Homo sapiens: one gene and its partners. The protein of the gene in region 3 interacts with the protein of the main gene of each other region in a biochemical or structural test. Each region holds a gene or a part of one and is shown on either strand. Other genes may lie near its edges.

The links.
Region 1: the proteins of NIN (region 3) and AUNIP form a complex in vitro, tested with the Homo sapiens proteins (one study listed by BioGRID).
Region 2: the proteins of NIN (region 3) and RTRAF form a complex in vitro, tested with the Homo sapiens proteins (one study listed by BioGRID and IntAct).

The regions. Positions count from the first base shown.
Region 1 is NC_000001.11:25,856,382-25,863,963, forward strand, and holds the start of AUNIP (aurora kinase A- and ninein-interacting protein), read right to left. Parts: upstream 3,077-7,582; 5' UTR 2,977-3,076; coding exon 2,899-2,976; intron 1-2,898. Other genes in the region: PAQR7 (membrane progestin receptor alpha), read right to left, coding at 6,418-7,458. UniProt on the Homo sapiens protein: DNA-binding protein that accumulates at DNA double-strand breaks (DSBs) following DNA damage and promotes DNA resection and homologous recombination.
Region 2 is NC_000014.9:51,985,418-51,992,575, reverse strand, and holds the start of RTRAF (RNA transcription, translation and transport factor protein), read right to left. Parts: upstream 3,031-7,158; 5' UTR 2,937-3,030; coding exon 2,876-2,936; intron 2,058-2,875; exon of another isoform or gene 1,992-2,057; intron 1,260-1,991; coding exon 1,135-1,259; intron 1-1,134. UniProt on the Homo sapiens protein: RNA-binding protein involved in modulation of mRNA transcription by Polymerase II. Component of the tRNA-splicing ligase complex and is required for tRNA ligation.
Region 3 is NC_000014.9:50,828,090-50,835,013, forward strand, and holds the start of NIN (ninein), read right to left. Parts: upstream 3,074-6,924; 5' UTR 2,917-3,073; intron 2,429-2,916; 5' UTR 2,375-2,428; intron 1-2,374. UniProt on the Homo sapiens protein: Centrosomal protein required in the positioning and anchorage of the microtubule minus-end in epithelial cells. May also act as a centrosome maturation factor.

The DNA of each region.
Region 1 (7,582 bases), on a different chromosome or scaffold from region 3:
CAAACAATAAAACAAGATTAGGCTGGGCGTAGTGGCTCACGCCTGTAATCCCAGGAGGCCGAGGCAGGTGGATCACCTCAGGTTGGGAGTTCAAGACCAGCCTAACCAACATGGAGAAACCCCGTCTCTACTAAAAATACAAATTCACCTGGGCAAGGTGGTGCATGCCTGTAATCCCAGCTACTCTGGAGACTGAGGCAGGGGAACTGCTTGAACCCAGGAGGTGGAGGTTGCAGTGAGCTGAGATCGCACCACTGCACTCCAGCCCGGGCAACAAGAGCAAGACTCCATTTCGGAAAACAACAACAACAACAACAACAACAAAACAGAATTATAGACAGAGAGACAAATATTGGCTCTCCTCTTCCCTGTGGAATATTCCCTTTCTCGCTCTCCTGAACTCTTCCTAATTCTATTTCTGTTCTCTTTCTAAATTAAACTGGTGGCTGGGTGCAGTGGCTCACACCTGTAATCCCAGCACTTTGAGAAGCCACGGTGGGCAGATCACTTGAGCTCAGGAGTTCAAGACCAGCCTAGGTAACACAGCGAAACCCCGTCTCTACAAAAAAAAAAAATACAAAAAATGAGCTGGGCTTTGTGGCACTATGCCTGTAGTCCCAGCTACTCGGGAGGATGAGGCAAGAGGATCACCTGGAGCCCGGGGGCGTTGAGGCTGTAGGTAGTCGTGATTACGCCACCGCACTCTAGCCTGGGTGACGGACTGAGGCCTGTCTCCAAAATTAACTAACAAATCAAAGTGGTATACAAGTTTCCCACGCATCCCATGTCATTCAAGAATGTATTCAAAGGGTACAAATGGCTTATTCCTAATTCAAGGAGTAATAAATAGCTATTGCACATTTTGATTTTTTTTTTTTTTTTTTTGAGACTGAGTCTTCTGTCACCCAGGCTGGAGTGCAGTGGCACGATCTCGGCTCACTGCAACCTCCACCTCCTGGGTTCAAGCAATTCTCCTGTCTCAGCCTCCCGAGTAGCTGGGATTACAGGTACCTGCCACCACGCCCAGCAAATTTTTGTATTTTTTATAGGAGAGACGGGGTTTCACCATGTTGGCCAGGCCGGTCTCGAACTCCTGACCTCAGGTGATCCGCCCGCCTCGGCCTCCCAAAGTACTAGGATTACAGGCGTGAGCCACCGCACCCGGCCATTTTGATAATTTTTGAAAAAATAAAACAATCGGCCAGGCACGGTAGCTCAAGCCTGTAATCTCAGCACTTTGGGAGGCCGAGACGGGCGGATCACTTGAGGTCAGGAGTTCAAGACCAGCCTGGCCAACATAGTGAAACCCTGTCTCTACTAAAAATACAAAAATCAGCCGAGCGTAGTGGCGGGCGCCTGTAGTCCCAGCTACTCGGGAGGCTGAGGCGGAAGAATCGCTTGAACCCGGGAGGCAGAGGTTGCAGTGAGCTTAGATCGCGCCACTGCACTCCAGCACGAGCAACAAGAGTGAAACTCCATCTCAAAAATAACAATAATAATAATATGCCGGGCGCAGTGGCTCACGCCTGTAATCCCAGCACTCTGGGAGGCTGAGGCGGGCAGATCACGAGGTCAGGAGAGCGAGACCATCCTGGCTAACACGGTGAAAACCTGTCTCTACTAAAAATACAAAAAATTAGCCGGGCGTGGTGGTGGCCGCCTGTAGTCCCAGCTACTCAGGAGGCTGAGGCAGGAGAATGGCGTGAACCCCGGAGGTGGGGCTTGCAGGGAACTGAGATTGTGTCACTGCACTCCAGCCTGGGCGACAGAGCAAGACTCCATCTCAAAAAATAATAATAATAAATAATAATAATAAAATGATCAAATTTCTTATCTATAAAACCAGGATAATGACAAAATCTACTTTACTGAATTTTGGTGAGTACCTGCCATTGATAAAGTGTATAAAGTCTCGGCAAAATGCCTGACACATAGAAAGCACTCAATAAAGGTTAGGTATTGTTGTTATTATTTATACACCTCTTTTCTTCCCTATAAGACTGTGAGCAACCTGAGAGCAAGAATCTTGCCCCTAGTGTCTGTTTTGAGCCTGTTTTCCGTATGTAAAATGGGTATCATTACACTATCTACCATATAGAATTGTACCAAACAAGGTAACATACCTAAAACACTTAGCACCAGCATAAAATGCTCAATAAACATGAATGATTATTATGTCGCACTTTTGTTTCTTTACAGTGACTGAAGAGCATCTTGCCTAGGTGACAGACCTGAATGTGATTTCCAGCTCCTTCTAGTTAGGCGGGCCTAGGTTAGTTACTGAACCTCAGTTTCCTCATTCCCAGCAAGAATGACGACACATATAACGCATATTCAGTATCTAATGCAGTATCCGGCACCCAGTGACTGCTCAGTACATAGGAGGCCAGCTCCCCTTCCCATAGCTTCTACTTTTCCCCTCAAAGTTACCGGTTCTGGGCAGGTAGTTGGCCTGCAACTTGGCAAATTGGGTGGAAACAGACCCCGGGGTGAGAATTTCCCCAATTTGCATTCGCATCCATCTCCCAATGCTCCAGCCTCTACTAGGACGTCTCGCAGGGACTGTGGCCTCCTAGGGAGCCTGGTCAGTTCAACTGCTCCGAGCGAACTTTCCCTCCGCCTCTCCCACACCTGAACCTTCGCCGCCCCTCCCTGCGCACCGCTCCTCCAGACCCCCCAACAGCACGCTCTTTCCTTCCGTCCCTCCCATCCTCCCCAAGCCCCGTTTTTCAACCTTCTTCAGACCACAATCCCTCTCGCCTGTGAATCCCCAACGCTGTTCCCTTCTCTGTCCCCGACTTCGCTTTCATCATCTCCAGGTGTCCCCCAAACTCCTCCCGTCTTACGCCTCCAGGCCCTACCTGGTTCCCAACGCCCTCTCATCCCCCAGCGTCCCACCTGCACTTTCCGCCTCTTCAGCGCCGCCGCGTCCAGCCACACGCCGCAGGCCTCCTCCTCGGGGCCTGTCCGCCTCATGGCCGCTGAGGAGACGAAGCCGGCAGGACGCCGGCGCAGGCTCCCGGCGCCTCAGGGAACGCCAGAACCGCGGCCGCCGACGTTCGGATCTCGCGCCAACGCTGGGGGCGGGGCTACGTCGCGACCGCCCCGGGCGCCAGCCCCGCCCCGGCAAGGCCCTGGCCCCCTTCGCTGTGCCCCGCCCACGCACTAACTTTCGCGGCCGGTCCCTTGAGTGCGTGCGGCATATTTCCCTGCGCGGAGGAGTGCGTGTTCTTTCTGATCCGCTCTTTCAAGAGCGGATTCGGAAGCTGCTGTGTGAACGGTTCTCGACAGCCTCAGAAATGTACATTTTCTTTTTGCTGTATTGAAAATTTCTTACAGTATTTCCCGGGCTTAGGAATTTGTTCGTGTCATCGCTGAATCTTCGCGATCACCCCCAGAAGGAAGTGGCTGAGCCGAGATCAGGCCCGTCGACTCCAGACCAGGGGTCCTCGACCTAAGTGGTTACCAGACACTCGAGTGTGCGAACAACTTTGGTAATTTTTTTTTTTTAATGTAAGCGTAACTACGAAGCCACATGGGAGAGGATTTTGAAGAGGTTAAAATTTGGGGTCAGGAACTAGATTTCAGTCCTGCTTTCACCGTTTACTGTGCCTTGGATTTTAAAGAGGATCAAATGAGGTTGTGAAAGTACTTTGTGAATTCAGAAAACCCCTTGGAAATGCAAAAATGTTGGCACCCCCACCCATCCTTCCGTCCCTAACCACAATCTCCATAGATGGAATATATGTACATTATACGTAATGTTTACATATTGTATATGTAAAAAAAATTTTTTTTTGAGACGGAGTCTCACTGTCGCCCAGGCTGGAGTGCAGTGGCGCTATCTCGGCTCACTGCAGCCCCGCCTCCTGGGTTCAAGCGGTTCTTCTGTCTCAGCCTCCCTAGTAGCTGGAAGTACAGGCGCACGCCACCACACCCAGCTAATTTTTGTATTTTTAGTAGAGACGGGGTTTCACCATTGGCCAGGCTGGTCTCGAACTCCTGACCTCGTGATACGCCTGCCTCAGCCTCCCAAAGTGCTGGGATTACAGGCATGAGCCACCGCGCCCGGCCAAAAATTTTGTAATTTTTTTTTTTTGGTGGAGGGAGGATAGAAGCTCAGCCACCTCTTGCCCAGTCTGCAGCAGGTCAGCCAGGAACCTCAACCATCTCTGCAGCCAGAGCCTGTCTTCATGGTGGACAGAGCCATCTCGCTTTGTCACCCAGGCTCGGGTACAGTGGCACAGTCTCAGCTCACTGCAGCCTCAACCTCTTGGGCTCAAGCGATCCTGCCACCTCAGCCTCCCAAGTAGCTGGGACTACAGGTGTGTGCCACCACGCCTGGCTAATTTTTGTATTTTTAGTAGAGATGGGTTTTCGCCATGTTGGCCAGACTGGTCTCAACTTCCTGCCCTCAGGTGATATGCCTGCCTCAGCCTCCCAAAGTGCTGGGATTACAAGCGTGAGTCACCATGCCTGGCCTATATCAAAATATTTATTTATATACACATATTTTATGTGTGTGTGTGTGTGTGTGTGTGTGTGTGTGTGTGTGTGTATTTCATAAGGTCCCCCATGATATTTCAGCAGTGAAGTGATATTTCTAATTAATTTGGGTTTTCTTATCTTCCCAATTTTCCTTCATTGTATATATATTGCTGTGTACTATGGAAAAAGCAATATTATAAAAGTTAACATACTTCTTCGGTGCGCATGCGACGAGGCTCAATATGTGTGGTGGAGTGTGCACGCCCCTGCCCCCTCCACTAAAAACAAAACAAAAAAACCCTCCTTAATTGAAGGAAAAACCAAACAAAAAAAGTCTTTGTCAGATCATAAAGTGGGATTATCATATTTTAAACACATTATTTTAACTACTTATAAAACTTTAGTAATAAAACTGCCGCCCACTCCCTTGCCAAACAAATTTTGTATATATAGATATGGTATATAAGGCCCCAACCCCATCCCCCAGCAAAGATAAAACAAGAACTGCTCCCTGCACCCTGTGTCCACTCCCAGGGGCCCCAGCTTCCTCCGGAAAACCTCCAGTAATGTGAGCAGGGGCCCCTCCCGGAAACAGGAGACAAAAAACAAAGAGGTGGCTACTGTCACAGTACTTTATTGCATCCAGGCCATAATCCAGACCACCCAGCCCCAACCCCACTTTTCCTTCCACACCTCTTGGTCTCTGCACAGGTTTCCCTCTGCCTGGAATGCCCTTCCTATTCTCCATCTGCAAACTCCTATTCACACTCCCCAACCTAAGACCCTGAGGGTCCCAGGCAGCACAGGTTAATCCCTCTCCAGCACCTCCCTTGACAGTTCATTCTGATATCAAAGCCTTTGTCGGCCAGGCGCAGTGGCTCATGCCGGTAATCCCAGCACTTTGGGAGGCCGAGACGGGCAGATCACCTGAGGTCAGGAGTTCAAGACCAGCCTGACCAACATGGAGAAACCCCGTCTCTACTAAAAATACAGAAAATTAGCCAGGCATGGTGGTGCATGCCTGTAACCCCAGCTACTCGGGAGGCTGAGGCAGGAAAATCGCTTGAACCTGGGAGGCGGAGGTGCAGTGAGCCGAGATCGCACCATTTTACTCCAGCCTAGCCAACAAGAGCGAAACTCCTCAAAAAAAAAAAAAAAAAAAAAAAAAAAAAAAGCCTTTGTCATCTTGCATTGATCCACAGGGCCCAGTGGTGACCTGCCTCTGAGCAGAGGCCCAGGAAACACTGAATGGATAAATGAATCCGTAACAAGGGAACCAGGAGAGAAGCTGGGAACAGGCCGTGTGGGACACAGAAGCCAGAGCTAGGAGATCTGGGGCTCACTGTCTGGGATAGTGACTGAAGGAGTATGAAGCACTGGATGGGACCCATTTGTATCTGGCACAATCTACTACCTTTGGGGTCTCTCTGCAGCTCCAACACTTGTGGCTGGGCTTCAAGGGACAGTAAGATCCTGTATATATTTTGGGCCTACCCCTTCCGCATCCAGCAATGAAATCTGAGTAGAAGTAGGTTGCCAAGGCCTCCCCTGGCTCAGCTCAAATCTGACTCTGGCCTAAGTTTCACCTCCTGCCTAGACAATCTAGAAGCCCCAATCCTCACCAAGCTGACCCCCAGCCTCACCCCAGTGAGTGGCAGTGGAAGGGCAAGCTGGAGTGGCCCACACCGTTAACTCTTTCCCTCTCCCTGGGCAAGGAGCTGGGGCAGGCCCAGGAGTGGACCCCAGCAACTCCTAGCCAATCCCTAAATCCAAGAATTGGCCAGTGATGCCCTTGGCAGTTGAGTCGTGCACAGAGAGTCACTGTGGGCCAGACACAAACAACTTTACCAGGCCTTGTTCCCACCTGGAGCCAAACCCAGACCCCTGTCCCCCAACTATACCTCCCTCCCTACCAGATGCCATCCCCCTTCACTTGGTCTTCTGATCAAGTTTGCGCTGTACCAGCTGGCTCAGGAGGAATGCAGTGAGGATGCTGCTGCCCACCGTGAGCAGGAAGAGGCCAGAAAAGTTGTGAGGCCAGTGCGTGTGCAGAGGCTCATAGATGGGCCGTCGGGCCTCATAGTCCAGTGCCACAGCCTCCAGCTGAGCCAGCGTGCACAGCACCAAGAAGATGTGGAAAAGTTGGTGGCCCTGCCCGAAGACATGGCAGCTGCCAGGGAACCAGCGCTCGGGCATGAAGGTAGAGAAGAAGGCAGCAGCCAGCAGAAAGAAGACCACCTGGCACTTGTGGTAGAGAAGAGCTGGATCATCCGTGGTGGGGTCGGAGGACACGAAGATACGATGCACCACAGGACTAATGTCCAGTGCGTAGGCCAGGACGGAGGGCACCTCCTGGCATGTGCGGCCCAGCAGGCCTGGTTTCTGGATGTACTTGTTATAGCAGGAGCCAATGCAGGAAAGCCAGGCGAGAAAGGCAGCCATGGGCAGAAAAACAGCCTGCACCTGGGCATGCCAGGCGGGCTCGATAGCATAGTAGAAGTGTGCCAAGGCACTGCCAAACTGGTACACGGCCACCCCCACATAGTCCAGGAAGAAGAAGCTGTAATGCCAGAACTCAGACTTGGCCTGCAGGAGGTGAGCCAAGGCACTGAAGGAGAGGTAGGTGAAAGAGGCAAGGACAATGATGAAGAGGGGCAGGGCGTGTGGGTCTCCCCAGAAGTCCACGGTCTCCACAAAGAGGGCCAGCCGCAGCAGCAGTACCAGGGCCGCCAGCAGGTGGGTCCAGACATTCACGGCCTCGTTGTGCTGCTGGAACAGCGTGCGGAAATAGAAGCGCCAGGTCTGATGCAGCGGCCGGTAGCCCGCATAGATGTACGGCTTCCAGAAGAGCGGCGGCACCTCAGCTCGATCCACCGTGAAGACAGGCTCTGGCTGCAGAGATAGCTGAGGCTCCTGGATGACCTGCCGCAGACTCGGCAGGAGGTGGCTGAGTTTCTGGGCCATGGCCATGGCTGTGGGCCTGGGCAGGGAGCTGGGAGAGAGACCAGAGCAAAGTCAGGGGCCTGGTGTCCTCACCCCCACGAGCAGCAGCTGGGGGGCTCTGATGCCCAAATCCTACTCCCTCCTCTCCGAC
Region 2 (7,158 bases), 1.2 Mb from region 3:
AAAAGAATACAGTAGTATTAATAGTAGTAGTATAGAGGCATTGGCAGTAATAAGCTTATCACACTTGCTATGCGCCAGGGACTTCTGTGAACAATTACTCATTAAAAACAAAGCCACACTTATGAGATAGGTATCATTGTTACCCTCACTTATTGATGAAAAAATTGAGACACGGAAAGGTTAATAACAATGATGTAATTTATACAATCCCTAATTTATAAAATCACTGATTCTAGGGAGAAAGTGCCTAATCACACTGCTCTCGCAAATGAAAAACTTAGCCTTTTTCAAGAAAAATATCTCACTCATCAAATATAACTGATGAAAATGTTTAATGTAAGAAATGACACTAAAAGCATTTTTATTCTAATCTGAGAATTCTTTTTTATGCAAAAGTGTTACTAAAACTAAATCAATGGGAAAATGATTCAAGGCACAAAAATATGATATACCAGAGATCATTTAAGGACTATTTCCCTAGCATACAACAAGGGATATCTGTTTACATTAAATATAAGCATAAACACGACAGTCTTGGTTTTCAAGCATCTCAATAATGTCTTTTTTTGAGACAAGGTGTCACTCTGTCGCCCAGGCTGGAGAACCTCAGCCTCCCAATTAGCTGACACTACAGACACAGGCCAGCACACCCAGATAACTTTCTATTTTCTTGTAGAGACAGGGTTTCATCATGTTGCCCAGGCTGCTGTCAGAACTCCTGAGCTCAAATGATCTGCCACCTCAGCCTCCCAAAGTGCTGGCATTATAGGTGTTAGCCATCACACCTAGCCAATGTCTTCTTTTAATATAAGAAATAGTACTGTGTTTAACAAAAATTCTGATTTGGGCCATAAAGGGAAAGCGAAATATTTACATCATTATTTATTTAAGAAACTTCATGTTTCTAGAGAAAACTATTTCTACCTAATACTGAAAGCTTGGTAGGAAGACATAAAATAATTTGCTCTAAAAGCAAAAGACACATCTAAGAAAAAAGCAAAATCCCTGAAATCCAGCTTTCCTAACACTGATCATTATCATTTTTTTCTTAAAAGAAGAAAGTAATTTTAAGCTCATCTTCATGATTTTTCAGACAAACTCTCTGTATTTTTACTTTACTTCCTAATTCATTACCTTTTCAAAGAACTTGGGCCAGTCGCTGCTGTGGATGTTTCTTAAATTCCCTCTGTCTTCAATCTTGTAGTGCCTGATTTTCTGGTCTTCAAGCCAAACGATGAAGTTTCTAAATTCTGTTTCATCTGCAATAAAAAATATCACATAAATAACTAGAAGCACTACATAAAATACCTCCTTCTCAGGTATATGTTCAGATATATGTTCTTGTGGAATTTTCTTAACTTCAAAATACTAAATTAATTGAACCAAAAGAGGGAGTTGAAAGTACAGATTCTGGAGTTGAAAGTACAGATTAACAATGATCTGTTCAAATCCTGGGTCCAGATACTTACTGGTTGTGTGAACTTGGGATAATCACCCACATTTTCTGTGCCTCAGACTCTTCAGCTACAAAATGAGGGTGCTAATAGAACTTACCTCATAGAGTTATGAAGATTAAAAGAAGTTGTTTTATTTAAGAAGTTTCTTAAATAAAATAAATACGGATAAAAACAGTGCCTGGCACATAGTTTTGCTATTTAAGTGTTACATATTAATATTCCAGTTCCTTTGCGGACAGAAAGGGGAAGGAGGGCAAGGTTAAATTTATAGCAAAGTAATAAAGTAAAATATACAACAAAATAATAAGTAAAAGAAATTAAATGACAAAAAAGACACTGTGACAACTGTTGTCATGGAATGTTAACTGCACATTAAGTGCATAATTGTTTCGTTTAATCCTCCCCATACCTCTTTTGAGGTAGGTAATATCCCATTTTACAGATAAGAACATTGAGACTCAAAGATTCCAATCCAGAACAAGGCTCTATTGTCACTGATACTTTTTTGTTAAAGTAGAAAAACAATAGATTATAATTTGATATGCTTCTACAGGCGATCAACAAAACACTGTCATCCTGCTTAGAAATTATTTTCAATTTGTGAGTCAAATTCAAGCTTCCATTATAAGGTCTTGAGAATTACACAGTGGTCTGAGTATCACAAGTTATACTTGATCACTTTCAAACTTACCAGTCTATCACAGGCCACAACTATACAAAGGAAACGAGTAGTGGTGGGTAGCAGTTTAGTTACAGTGAGTAGCAACGTTATTACTTTTTAAAATTCTAATGCTGTAAAATCCCAAATACCTTTGTATTCACAATTCAACCTTCCCACTCATCTGCTATTAACTTTTTTGCAACACCACATAACACAACTAGCCCGTTACTACACGCGCTTACCCTCCCACTGTGATCGGTCCTGATTTCATTGTGTACTGTCTCAAACTGCTCAGTGGGTTCTGATTGCTTCCACCCCTCGTCCCTTTAGCTCCTGGCAGGCAGTGAACTAGTCTTCAAGTTACTCAGCACCTTCCTCAGAATCCAGCACCGCGCTGGCCCATAATTAGCAGGTGCTCAAGGTATCGCCTAATTACCCAGGGAACCATGGAGTTGAATAGTGAGTGAGAAAGACGAATGCTCTCCCTTTTATGTACAGAGAAGGTAGTTACGTGATGCTTGGAGTTAAGCAAGTGCAGAAAGTAACATGCCGAGACAGGAGTAGGTGAGAGGGCTTTAAAGGCGGGAAGGGGCGGCGAAGAGCCGAGGTACGTGGCGACCCAGAGGAGAGGGGCCCGGAGGCTGCCGGCGGAAACCAGGCCGCCGAGGGTCCCGACGGGGAGGTGGGGTGCGGGCACTGAGGCTGGGACCTCCGCCCAGGTCAGGGACACGCGGCCGGGCTGAGGCCGCCGCCTCACCTTTGCAGTTGAAGCCGGCGGGGTTGTGGTAGTCGAGAGCCGTCAACTTGCGTCGGAACATGGTCCCCGCTTCTCGCTCTGGTCCCCCGGGCCTCGGCCGGGAGAGAAGAAGCGAGGTGGAGCGGGAGGCGCAGGCACCGGCGACGCGGCGAGAGGGCGGGCAGGCGCTGAGTCGCTCCGAAATGACGGCGGCCTTCGCCAATCGTGGCTTAAAAGCGGTGGCCGCCGGCAAATGCCCACCAATCGCGGCTCCGGCTGGGGAGGCGGGGCCACGTCGGCGCACGTCGACGCTCAAATAAACTTTATTGTCAGCTTCCTGGTTGTACAATAGGCAGAAAACCACCGGGAAGCCACTTTCCTTTCTTTCTTGCTATAGCATGCAGAGAATAGTATATGTAGGCTTTTGGTATTCGCTGTACCTCCCGTTGGATTACAGAATTACTGTTTAGTGTTTTGAGTGCATTCATTCATTTTATTACTCCTCCTACATAACAGGTGCTCTTCTAACACTGGTAATACAAAGACTACAAAGCAAGGTCCCTATAGTAAGATGCTTTCAGACTAATTGGGAGTGATCCACAGGTAAACATACAATTGTTAATACGATGCGATCGTTCCAGATATCCTCAGCCAGAGTGAAATCTGAAGCCGAGATCGTCCCTCACTCCCCCTCACCCTCGGTCACAGCATCCAGTAGGTCACCAATTCCTGCCATTCTGTCTCTCCTAACTCTCAAATCCCTCACCTCCTTTCGGACCCCACTGATACAGCCACAGATCAGATCCTCATCACTTTTGCTTACTCTAATTATCTGATTGATTTCTTAGGGCCAGTCCTGCGTTCTCCAAACCATTCCTCCATACAGCGATGAGAGAGATTTTTCTAAAGCAAAAACCTGTACATAACTTTCTCTGCTTATGTTTTAGTGGTTCCTGGTTACCCCCTAGAAATAATCAAAACTCCTTATTGTATTTAAGATCTTTCCTGATCCAGTCTCTACTTGCTTTTCAGACAGTGGAGAGAGAGCAGTGAACAAGACAGACCAGGCCCCTATTTTCATGGAGTTTAAAAGGCTAATGAGGGAAACAATAAACAGATAAGTATAAACTAAGGCTTGAAGATGGTGAGGCATTCACCATGCAGTCAAAAGGGTAACCTAGTTTGAGGGAAGAGGATGTATAAAGGCAAGAAATGAGCAACAGCATGGCCCAGAGGGACTAGAGCTTATAGGGGCTGGAGGGTGAGAGGGAATGACAGCTGATAAGACTATAGACAAAGGCAGGGCTCTGATAAGGAAAAGCCTCTCATGGCAAGCTAAGGGGAGCTATTGAAATTCTTGGGGGTAAGCCAACTATGTACGTTTCATTTCATTTCATTAATTAAGATTTTAATTAAACACTTAGGATCTGAGGAGCATACAAATGAGTAAACTACAGTCTCTATTTTCAGGAAGTTTAAGTATAATGACAAATATAGATGTGTAAATAAATACTTATAATCTGGAGTTAGAAAGAGTAAGTGAATTACAAGAAATATAAAATGTACTACAAAGAAGTACAGGCCAGGTGCAGAAGCTCATGCCTGTAGTCCCAGCACTTTGGGAGGCTGAGGTGGGAGGATAGTTCAAGCCCAGGAGTTTGAGACCAGCCTAGGCAACATAGTGAGACTTTGTCTCTATTAAAACTAAAAAAAAAAAAAAAAGAAGAAAGAAAAATTAGCCTGGCATGCTCGTGTGTGCCTGTGGACCCAGCTACTCAGGAGGCTGAGGTGGGAGGATCACTTGAGCCTGCAAGGTTGAGGCTGCAGTGAGCCATGATCACACCAACCTGTGCAACATGTAAGACCCCATCTCAAAAATAATAATAATAAAAAGAAGTACAGAGGCTAGAATACAGCTTTAGTTTTAAGGGGGCACTGTAAGATAATCTGTATTTTTCAATTAAGGTGCTTATAGAGTGAATCAAGAAAATCAGTTCAAGAGTGTCTCATTTCCAACAAAATTTGATCAAAGATATGGCTATAATCTCATATTGTAGTGCATGCTAGTTGTATAATTAATGAAATACTAACCAAAAAATGAAAAAATGAACCAATCATGGAAGGGAAAATAATAAATACTTACATATAAATAATAAATTAAAAAGGGGGAAAAATACAATTGCAGACCATGAATTTCTTTAAAAAAATAAGGAAAAACATCTCTTACCATTTGTTTTCTGAAATTGACCTTTCAAGGCAAAAAATGAAGTTGTTTGCTCCTGGCCTAGTCTTTCCACTTCAGGGTCCCCATTGTCAGCAACTTAAGACTGTCCCTAGTCATCAGCCCCGGCCACCACCAGGAGTGGGGAGGTTGGAGGAAGATTCAGATGATGCAGAATGCTAAAGTGTCAGGGGATACTTGAGCAGGGGATAAAGCAAACTTTGGGAAAGAAGTATAAAATAAATATTAATCCATTTTTTATGTTAAAACCCAGTTATCTTTTTTTTTCTCTGAATTTGAAGGAGTTCTTTGACCTATTCTGAATGGAGTGTCCAACAGTAAGTGAATCTTACATAATTCCATTTCTGAAGACCAAGCCCTCTGTATACTTCAAGAAAAGGAAACCAACTTTTGTGTGTGTGTGTTTTCATAAGTACCCAGTGTTTAGCTCCCACTTATAAGTGAGAACCTGTGGTATTTGGTTGTCTGTTCCTGTGTTAATTTGCTTAGGATAACGGCCTCCAGCTGCATCCATATTGCTGCAAATTTGGACATAATATTTGTTCTTTTTATGGCTGCATAGTATTCCATGGGGTATATGTACCATATTTTCTTTATCCAGTCAGCCTCTGATGGGCATCTAGGTTGATTCCACGTCTTTGCTATTGTGAACAGTGCTGCAATGAACATGAGAATGCATGTGTCTTTTTGGTGGAAGGATCTGGAAATCAACTTTTATTATCAAATGACCTGAACTCCAATCTAATGGTTGATCATAGGTTTGACAGGCTATTAATTCATCTGTTGAATTGTTCAGTAAAGTGTTTAGAGTGTCAATTACATGCCAGGCAATCTTGTAGGCATTTTGGAGTCATCTGAGAGCTTAAACACAACAACCCTGACCTCAGGGAGCTTATCATTGGGCAAGGGAAGACAAACAGTACAATAATAAATAAATACATTATTTACTATTCAGAAGGTTCTAAGTACTATAGGAAAATTATAACAAGGTAAGGGGGGCAACAAATAGCGGTGGGGATATAATGGGTGTTGCAGTTTTAGACAAGATGGTCAGGTTGGGCCTCATTGAGACAGTGAAGTGTAAGGAAAGCCTAGAAGGAGGTAAGGAAGTTAGCCACACAAATATCTGGGGAAAGAGATTTCTAGATGGAGTACTCAAAAAAAAAAAAACCAAGATAAGAATGGTTTTTATATTTTTAAATGGTTGAAAAATCAAAAGAATAATAATATTTTATGACATGTGAAAGCTATATAAAATTCAAATTTCAGTGTACATAAATAAAGTTGTATTGGAACACAGCCATGCCCATTTGCTAACTGGCTGCTTTGGTGCTACAAGGGCAGAGTTGAATAAATGCAACATAGACCACATGACTCACAAAACCTAAAATATTTGCAAGGGCATATATGGTTGCAGAAATGTAGAGGTGGCCATTTCAACGGTATTGCCAGGGCAACACATTATCAAGAAAGGCAACCAGTCAGAGGTAAAAGTTGCTCTTTGAAGGACAGTTTCACAACTTGTAACAACTTTTAAAGTCTTGGCAGTTTTACTAGAAGCCTTTGTTCAAATTAGTCTTCCGAAAACAGTGAACAGAACAAGTTGGTAATAACCAGGAATAGCCACAAAAGTCTCTACAGTGCACAGAAAAACAGGTTTTATATTCTAATGAATGTTATCAATTGAACACCCCATGAAATCAGAATTTTTGGAACAAGTTGTATAATGCAGAAAGGTCTCTCTCCCTGGGGGAGCCTCCCGATGAGCAAACATCTCCTTTATCTCTTTCTGAGACTCTTTATGTTAAATATGAAAACTTGCTGCTTTTTAAGGTCAAGCTCTGGAATTTCATGATTTAGCATTAAAAGCAAAATGGCAGGGCAGTAGAACTCAATTTTATTGGTAGAAAACGAATAGGAATGAATAGGAATTTATGTAGTCATGCAAACAGCATAAAGCATTCACCTTCCACATCTAATACTGCAGAGGAAACACTTGCCGAACAGTGAAAACAACACAGAGGACAATACAGCCAAGAAGCACAGACAGGCCATTCCCAAA
Region 3 (6,924 bases):
GCATGTTTGTTACAAAAAAAAAAAAAAAGGAGAAAGCTTATAACAACTTCCACTTCTTAAGCCATATTGACTCACATTAATTTAGGATGCCTGAGGCTATGAGTATGGTACCCTGAGGTGTAAGTGAAGGTGATCTTCTCTTCTCACGTCTATGAACAATATTTTCCCAACTTTGTTTTTAAAGTGAGAATTAGGGTATAGATAGATGCTTTGTAATTTTTCCATCCAAAAGCTTGAATAAATGGTTAATTGCTGACTTAAATTGCAATAAAGAAGTGTCCTAATTTCAAACAAGGATGCTCACTTTCAGAATCTCATAATCTTTTCAAAATTCTATTTTATTCATAAATAGGATAAAAATCTTTTTGCAAGCTTCACTAAGTCTCTCCATAAGCCCCTGCCCAACAGATGCAAGTTCAATAGCTAGAATTCAAACCAGATAATTTATTGGCTTACAAATGAATTGGCATCTATAAAAATAAGCCTTCTAAAAAGGCTTCACGCTGTTTAAATCCTTCTAAAATGCTCTGGCTAAGCTTGCCCACCCTTTATCAATGTAAGACTGATAAAATGCATTTTCATTATCAACATAAAATGGAAGCATCAAGATAGTTGAAATGTTAGTTTAGAAAGTCATTTGCAGTGACATTTAAAACAATTTATTTGAACATTTGACTCATGATAAGAATACTGCCTATTACATTAAGATTGGCTGTTCAGAATTCACTGGAGCCCTATTCTCCCCCTCTGTGACAGTTAACATCTTTTGATATTAAGGGTCATTACACATCTAAAATGAAAAAGAAATAAGAAAAAAGAACCCCACGCCATTCTGAGCAAGTGCCTATTAAAATGACTGATCCTTGACATTTTAATGCAGACTGTATGATGGCTTCCTCTCTATTGCCCCCTGTGAAGCCTTTCCCTGTATTGGTAATAACTTTGCCGATGTCCAACCCTGTGGAACATTCATCCTACCTTTTCCCCACTCTGCAGAATGCTTCCCTCTAAAGAATCACCAGAGAACAGGGAAAATAAACAAATCTGCAAACAAATTCCCGGGCAGTTCACATCACCTCCCAAAGGACACTGACAATAGCTGAAGAGACCACAACACACAAACTCGTTTTTCAGCCAGCCTGTAATGTTCCTCCTATACACACTCTGGAAATCCTCAGCTCCCTTCAACTCCGGAGCAAGAGCCACCAATATTCCAGGTCAGCCACCTATATAATATGCTCACCACGAGAGAAGACTCAAGGTAAAATTAAACTGACAGAAAAAAGGAATTTTCCTTGTTAGATCATCAAGCCTCCGGAATCATGCAAACATGTGTGTATGTTATGGTGTTTACGGGGACCTAACTGAGAAACGTCGTGGTTCCAGGGGCTTCCCTCATGTGTCAGGATGGACTTTATCAGGATTCTCATCCTACAAAGCTACCATGTCAGTCACAAAAGACAACTACGCAATCTGTTTCGATGTAATAAATTCAGGAGTTGAGCTGTATGGCAAGCCCATCTTAGAAGTCCTCAACACCAGGAGAGGATCTGTCCTAGTTAGGAGCAGAAAGCAGATCTCATAATATCCAAGTTGTCTGGAAACATGATATATGGTAGGGCAGTCTTTCCAGCTCCCATTTTGTTGGTGCCTTCACCTCGGGTTGTCAGGGCTGGGGTTAGGGAAATTGCCTCTTTCCGTCTCTATCTCTTTTAACTTCGCAGCGAGAGCTGGAAGCAGTGACTGTTCCCATCACCTAGTGTCCTTCTGTCAGGGGCCGCTTCGGTAGCTACAGAAGCCTAGCCGCTGGAAGCTTCCTTCCCCGACACTCCATACCTCCATGCCACACCTTTTAGGCAATAACCAAATGTCATTTTGTTCTTTCCCCTTCTCCTGGGCATTATACTGGGAAACTGTTTACGCGCATCGACCCCGCACACCTCCAAAAATCTCCACTTTCCGGGCTCCAAGCAGCTCTCCGCTACTCAGACAGCCCAGGCTAACACCTCGGATTTCCCCATGCAGTTTCCTCTGCAGCGTCTCAATCACAAGGCTGTACGGGCGGCACATGCCAACGGAACCACCACCCCTTCTGCTCCCTCGGGGACTCAAGCCTGCTCTCGGTCAAAGCACAGAAGCGGCTTTCAGCTCCGGGCAGGCGGCCGGGGCGTCGGGGGTACTGGAAGTGCCCAAACCCAGCGGTGCTGCCGCGCGGGGAAGCGGAGGTGCGGCCGCAGGACAAGCGCGCCTCCCAAGTCCCTGGCCACCTGCGATGCGTCCTCAACTCGCCTGCCCATCGCCACTACCAGAAACCTCAGACAGCCCATTGTGTGGGCAGGCAGCGCGCTCCCCCGGCCCCGCCGCCCTCGCCTACCTTCTGTCGGTCTCTCCGGAGCGCCCGCACAGCCGGCAGCCCGCCTCCAGCGCTCTGCAAAGCGAAGGAGGACGCTTTGTTAGGGCTGGAGAAACGGGACAATACTTCGCAGCCGGCGCAGCGGTTCCGGGCGGGCGTCCTTCAAAAGGACGCGAATGGGGACCCGCGTGAGCGTCATTTCCATATGTAAGGGGCCAGCTCTTACAAAAGCGCGGCTCTCGGGGGCCGCGGGCTGCAGCGCGCATCCTCCCCGCCCCCGCCGGCCCGCCCCCGCCCGCGCAGCCCGCGCCTCCGGGACCGGCCCCTCCTCCCGCCTCCGAAGCAGCCCCGTCCCCGCCTCGTCCTCCCGCCCGGCCGCTGCTTCCTCCCGGCCCGCAGGGATTGCGCCCCGCTGGCCCCGGACCCCAAATGGGAAGCCCCCGAGTGATCCGGTGCCCAGTTCGCTCCGGGCTCTCAGGGCCTCGCCGACGGCGCGGGGGCAGCGCGAGGCCTCCGTGCACCCCCAGGCCGTGGGTCCGGGTCCCCGGGGTTGCGCCACTTACTGCGTCCCGGGGCTCAGGCGCCCGGCGCCGCCGCGGGAACCATGGCCGCTGGCGCACTCCGGGCTTGGCGGCGGCAGCGGGACGGCCGCGCCCAGCGCGCTCGGCTCCCGGCTCGGCCGCGGCCACCCGGAGCTCTGGACGCCGGGGAGGAAGGGCCGGGCCCGCGCGGGGAGGAGGAGTCAGGGCGACGCCGGCCCCGGCGCGGCTCCTCCTCTGCGGCCCGCGCGGCTCAGGCAGCGGAGGGAGGAGCGGGCGGCGCCGCCTGAGCCCTCGCAGACGCGCCCTCCCGCTCCGAGCGCCCGCCTCCGAGATCTGAAGTTAGAAACGCCGGGGCTCCGGGTGCGGGTGTAGGAGGCTGGCGCCCCGAGGTCGCCACCGAGCTGGGGCTGGCGCTGCCACCCTCGCCCCTTGCCTGTCCGCCTCCCTTTCTTTCCCAACACGCCTACACTCACCCGCACCGCGGACACTCGGGCCGCAGCGTCTTCGCGCAGAGGAAGGGCCCCCGCCTTCAGCAAGCGGGACTTTAAGGGGGTGATTTCCCAGCCCTCGGGTGTCGATTGGCCATCAACATTGGAAAGGGTGTTCAGGAGGCAGAAGGGCTGTAGAAGTGACTCGGAACCCTGTAGAGCGAGCGCGACCCTCCTGCCGGGTCTACACTGGCTTCCGCACCTGCCCACCACGTCCTCACAGGCTCCCGCCCCTGTGCAGCCTTCTCCGGGTGAAGCTAACCCTCGGTCGCAAGCCACACAGGACGAAAACTCCTTGGAGTTGGTGGTTCCCAGCCCAACAGTTGCTCGATATTAATCGCCTCCTACCTACTACCCCAGAGTCTGCGTTCTCACTCCCCCATCCCTACACTTCTGATCTCATTGCAGTCAAATAGGATCCCAAGTCCAGGCCATGGTTCTTTTTGAGCTGCAGGGTTAAATGTGTTGCCCTTGAAGGATCCGCCTGATGGATTACAACCCACAAGTCTGGTTATTTTAGCAGGAAACTGGTGATTCCTTTTCTACCGAGAAAGCAAGCAACAGACAAGAGGAAACCAGCATTCCTTGAGAATCCAGTGCGCTAGAAACTCGACAGAAATTATCTTATCTAATTCTCACATCACTCTTAGGAGGCAGACATTATTTTGCAGATGAGGAAAATGGATCTCCCAGAAGTCAAAGAGCTTCCTCAGGATCACACAGCAGGAACTCCACAGAACTGAGATTCAAAAGCAGATCACATATGTGGCAAAATTGCATAGAACTGAATATACACTCACAAATGAGAGCACGTGAAACTCATGAAATTTGAATAAGACATTTGGACTACACTAATGTCCATTTACTGATTGTAATATTGTTCTACAGTTATGCAAAATGTTACCATTGAGAAAAATTAAGTGAAGCGTCTATAGGGAATCTCTCTATTATTCCTTACAACTTCAAGCGAATTTACAGTTACCTCAAAAAATTTTTTTAAAAATTTTAAACATCTCAGTCTTATTCAAAAGCCCAGGCTCTCTTCTTTCAACACGGTATATAAGCGTGCCTGCAGAATAAGAGAGATTTATGCTCCTCTCTCCTTTTTAAACAGTCTTGAATAAGTACACATACACACACAAACACACACTCATACACTGTATGCATGGTTGTTCAGTCATCCAGTAATATGATACAACACACACACACACACACGCAGTTCATTAAGAGGATAGCTAACCTGTTACCAGAATACTTACATAGAGGTCATCTTGTAAGACAGACAATAATGCTCACTGGGCACTAAAACAGCCAACAGTCTTGGAAGGTAAGAATGAAGAGGTGTCTTTCTTGTTTCACCTAATCTCTGCCATGGAAGCCTCATCCTACTGGTTACCTCTCCAAGCATCGCTTTTTAACCTGCAAGAATCCTTAAGGATGATATTGATCATTAGTTTAAAACAGTGATTCCTGGGGGTCAGGGGATATTGGAAGTGGCATTCACTCCCTGTGCAGGAAGATCAGAATTGCTGGGGGTTGTGTAATTTGAAAAACACAAGATGCGCTTTCTTGAGAGGAGTAAGTGGGGTGGAGTTAGCCCTGGGACTGGGAACTGGGATCACCTCCAGCCTTGCTACAAAGGAGGGAAAGCATGGAGCATGGTTACCGCGTGGTGTGGGTTGGCAAGAGCAACTCTACCAAGAAAGATGATTTATTTAACACAATGGGCCTGCAGTTTGGTTTGCACTGAGCACATGGTTAGTCTTAGTCCAAACTGGAGTCATGGGAAAAAAAAGCAGAGACTTCCTTTAGAGCCCATTACTTGATCTTTTCTCTGTTAAACACAAAATAACAGCAGAAGTAGCAACCAGGCTCCAGTTCTACATTATAACCAATATAAGAGAGAAAAGAAGAAATGTAAATATTTATTCAGAGTTATCACCCTTTACAAACAAAACTTCACTCTTATCTGTTGCAGCTTATCTGACTCTGATTTTTACTCTCACTTTACAAAGAACCTTGTTCAAGGACCTAGGATCCTTGAAGTATTTGTACGTGAAGTTTTTGAAGGGTTTTCTGCCATATTTCACAGTACGGAACTGGCTTTCTCAGATGGTTAAAGCTCTAAAACGTTAACTAAAGAATAATCCAGGGAAGAGAAAGTTACTCTTTGTTTCTTTTCTTTCTTTTTATTTATTTATTTATTTATTTTTTGAGATGGAGTCTTACTGTGTCGCCCAGGCTGGAGTGCAGTGGTGCAATCTTGTCTCACTGAAACCTCCACCTCCTGGCCTCCTGCGTTCAAGCGATTCTTCTGACTCATCCTCCCAAGTAGCTGGGATTACAGATGTGCACAACCACATCTGGCTAATTTTTGAATTTTTAGTAGAGACAAGGTTTCACCATGTTGGTCAAGCTGGTCTTGAATTCCTGACCTCAAGTGATCCTGCCTCGGCCTCCCAAAGTGCTGGGATTACAGGCGTGAGCCACCACGCCTGGCCTACTCTTTGTTTCTTCTTGAAGTAATTTTGAAATTATCAGTTTAGAGTCAAGACGACAAATGAGAGAGAGAGAGAAAAAGAGAGAGAAAAAGTCAGGCTTTGTAAATTTCCTGGAACCTGAAAAGTTATTTTTTTTTTTCTTAGCCAAAAAAAGGCTCTAACCAAACATAGTCTACCCTCTCCCAACTCACAGTTGGGTATAAACTATTTTTTATTCACAGAATAGTCAAACAGCCTGTCACTCATGTAGCAACTCCTGGCTCCTTCTAAACTTCTTTAATCGATATCTTTCTTATTTCTGTGACCATTTGAACTCAGCAGGACAGTTTTCAGGCAAGTTGCAGAGCTGTGTCAAAGACAGCCAGATTGTTAAAGTAGATGATCAGTTATAGTTTGGCCCAGGAACTCACTCGGTGAAAGAAAGGGACATCAATGATCTCCCCAAGGCCCTAAGGAAAATGAATGAGGAAAGGAAAAAGGGAGAAATTTGAGTTCCAGACATACAAGTCAGGGACTTAAGAGTTCCAGCAGCAAAATGTTGGTGGTTAAGAACCCAGGAAGAAAGAGGAAAAGTATAGGAAAGGGAAGGGAAGGTGACAGAAGGCAAACTGATTTACACTTTTGCCCCTGGGGGACACCTATTAGAAATTAGGATTCTCTATTCATTTTCCTTATGAAGAAAATGAAAGAAGAGGAAACCAGGATTCCATACAATTTATTTTTTTAAAGTAAGCATTGATTGCCTACCCTGTGCCTAATACTGTCCTGAAAGTCACACAATGTTCAAAATAAACATCAGGCTGGGCATGGTGGCTCACACCTGTAATCCCAACATTTCTGGGGGCTAAGGTGGGTGGATGGCTTGAGCTCAGGAGTTCAAGACCAGCCTGGGCAACACAGTGAGACCCCCCTTCTCTACTCCTCTTTTTTTATTAGCCAGGCTGGGTAGCACGTGCCTCTGGTCCCAACTTCTCAGGAGACTGACATAGGAGCATCGATTGAGCCCAGGAGGTCAAGGCTGCAGTGAACAACGATTACAC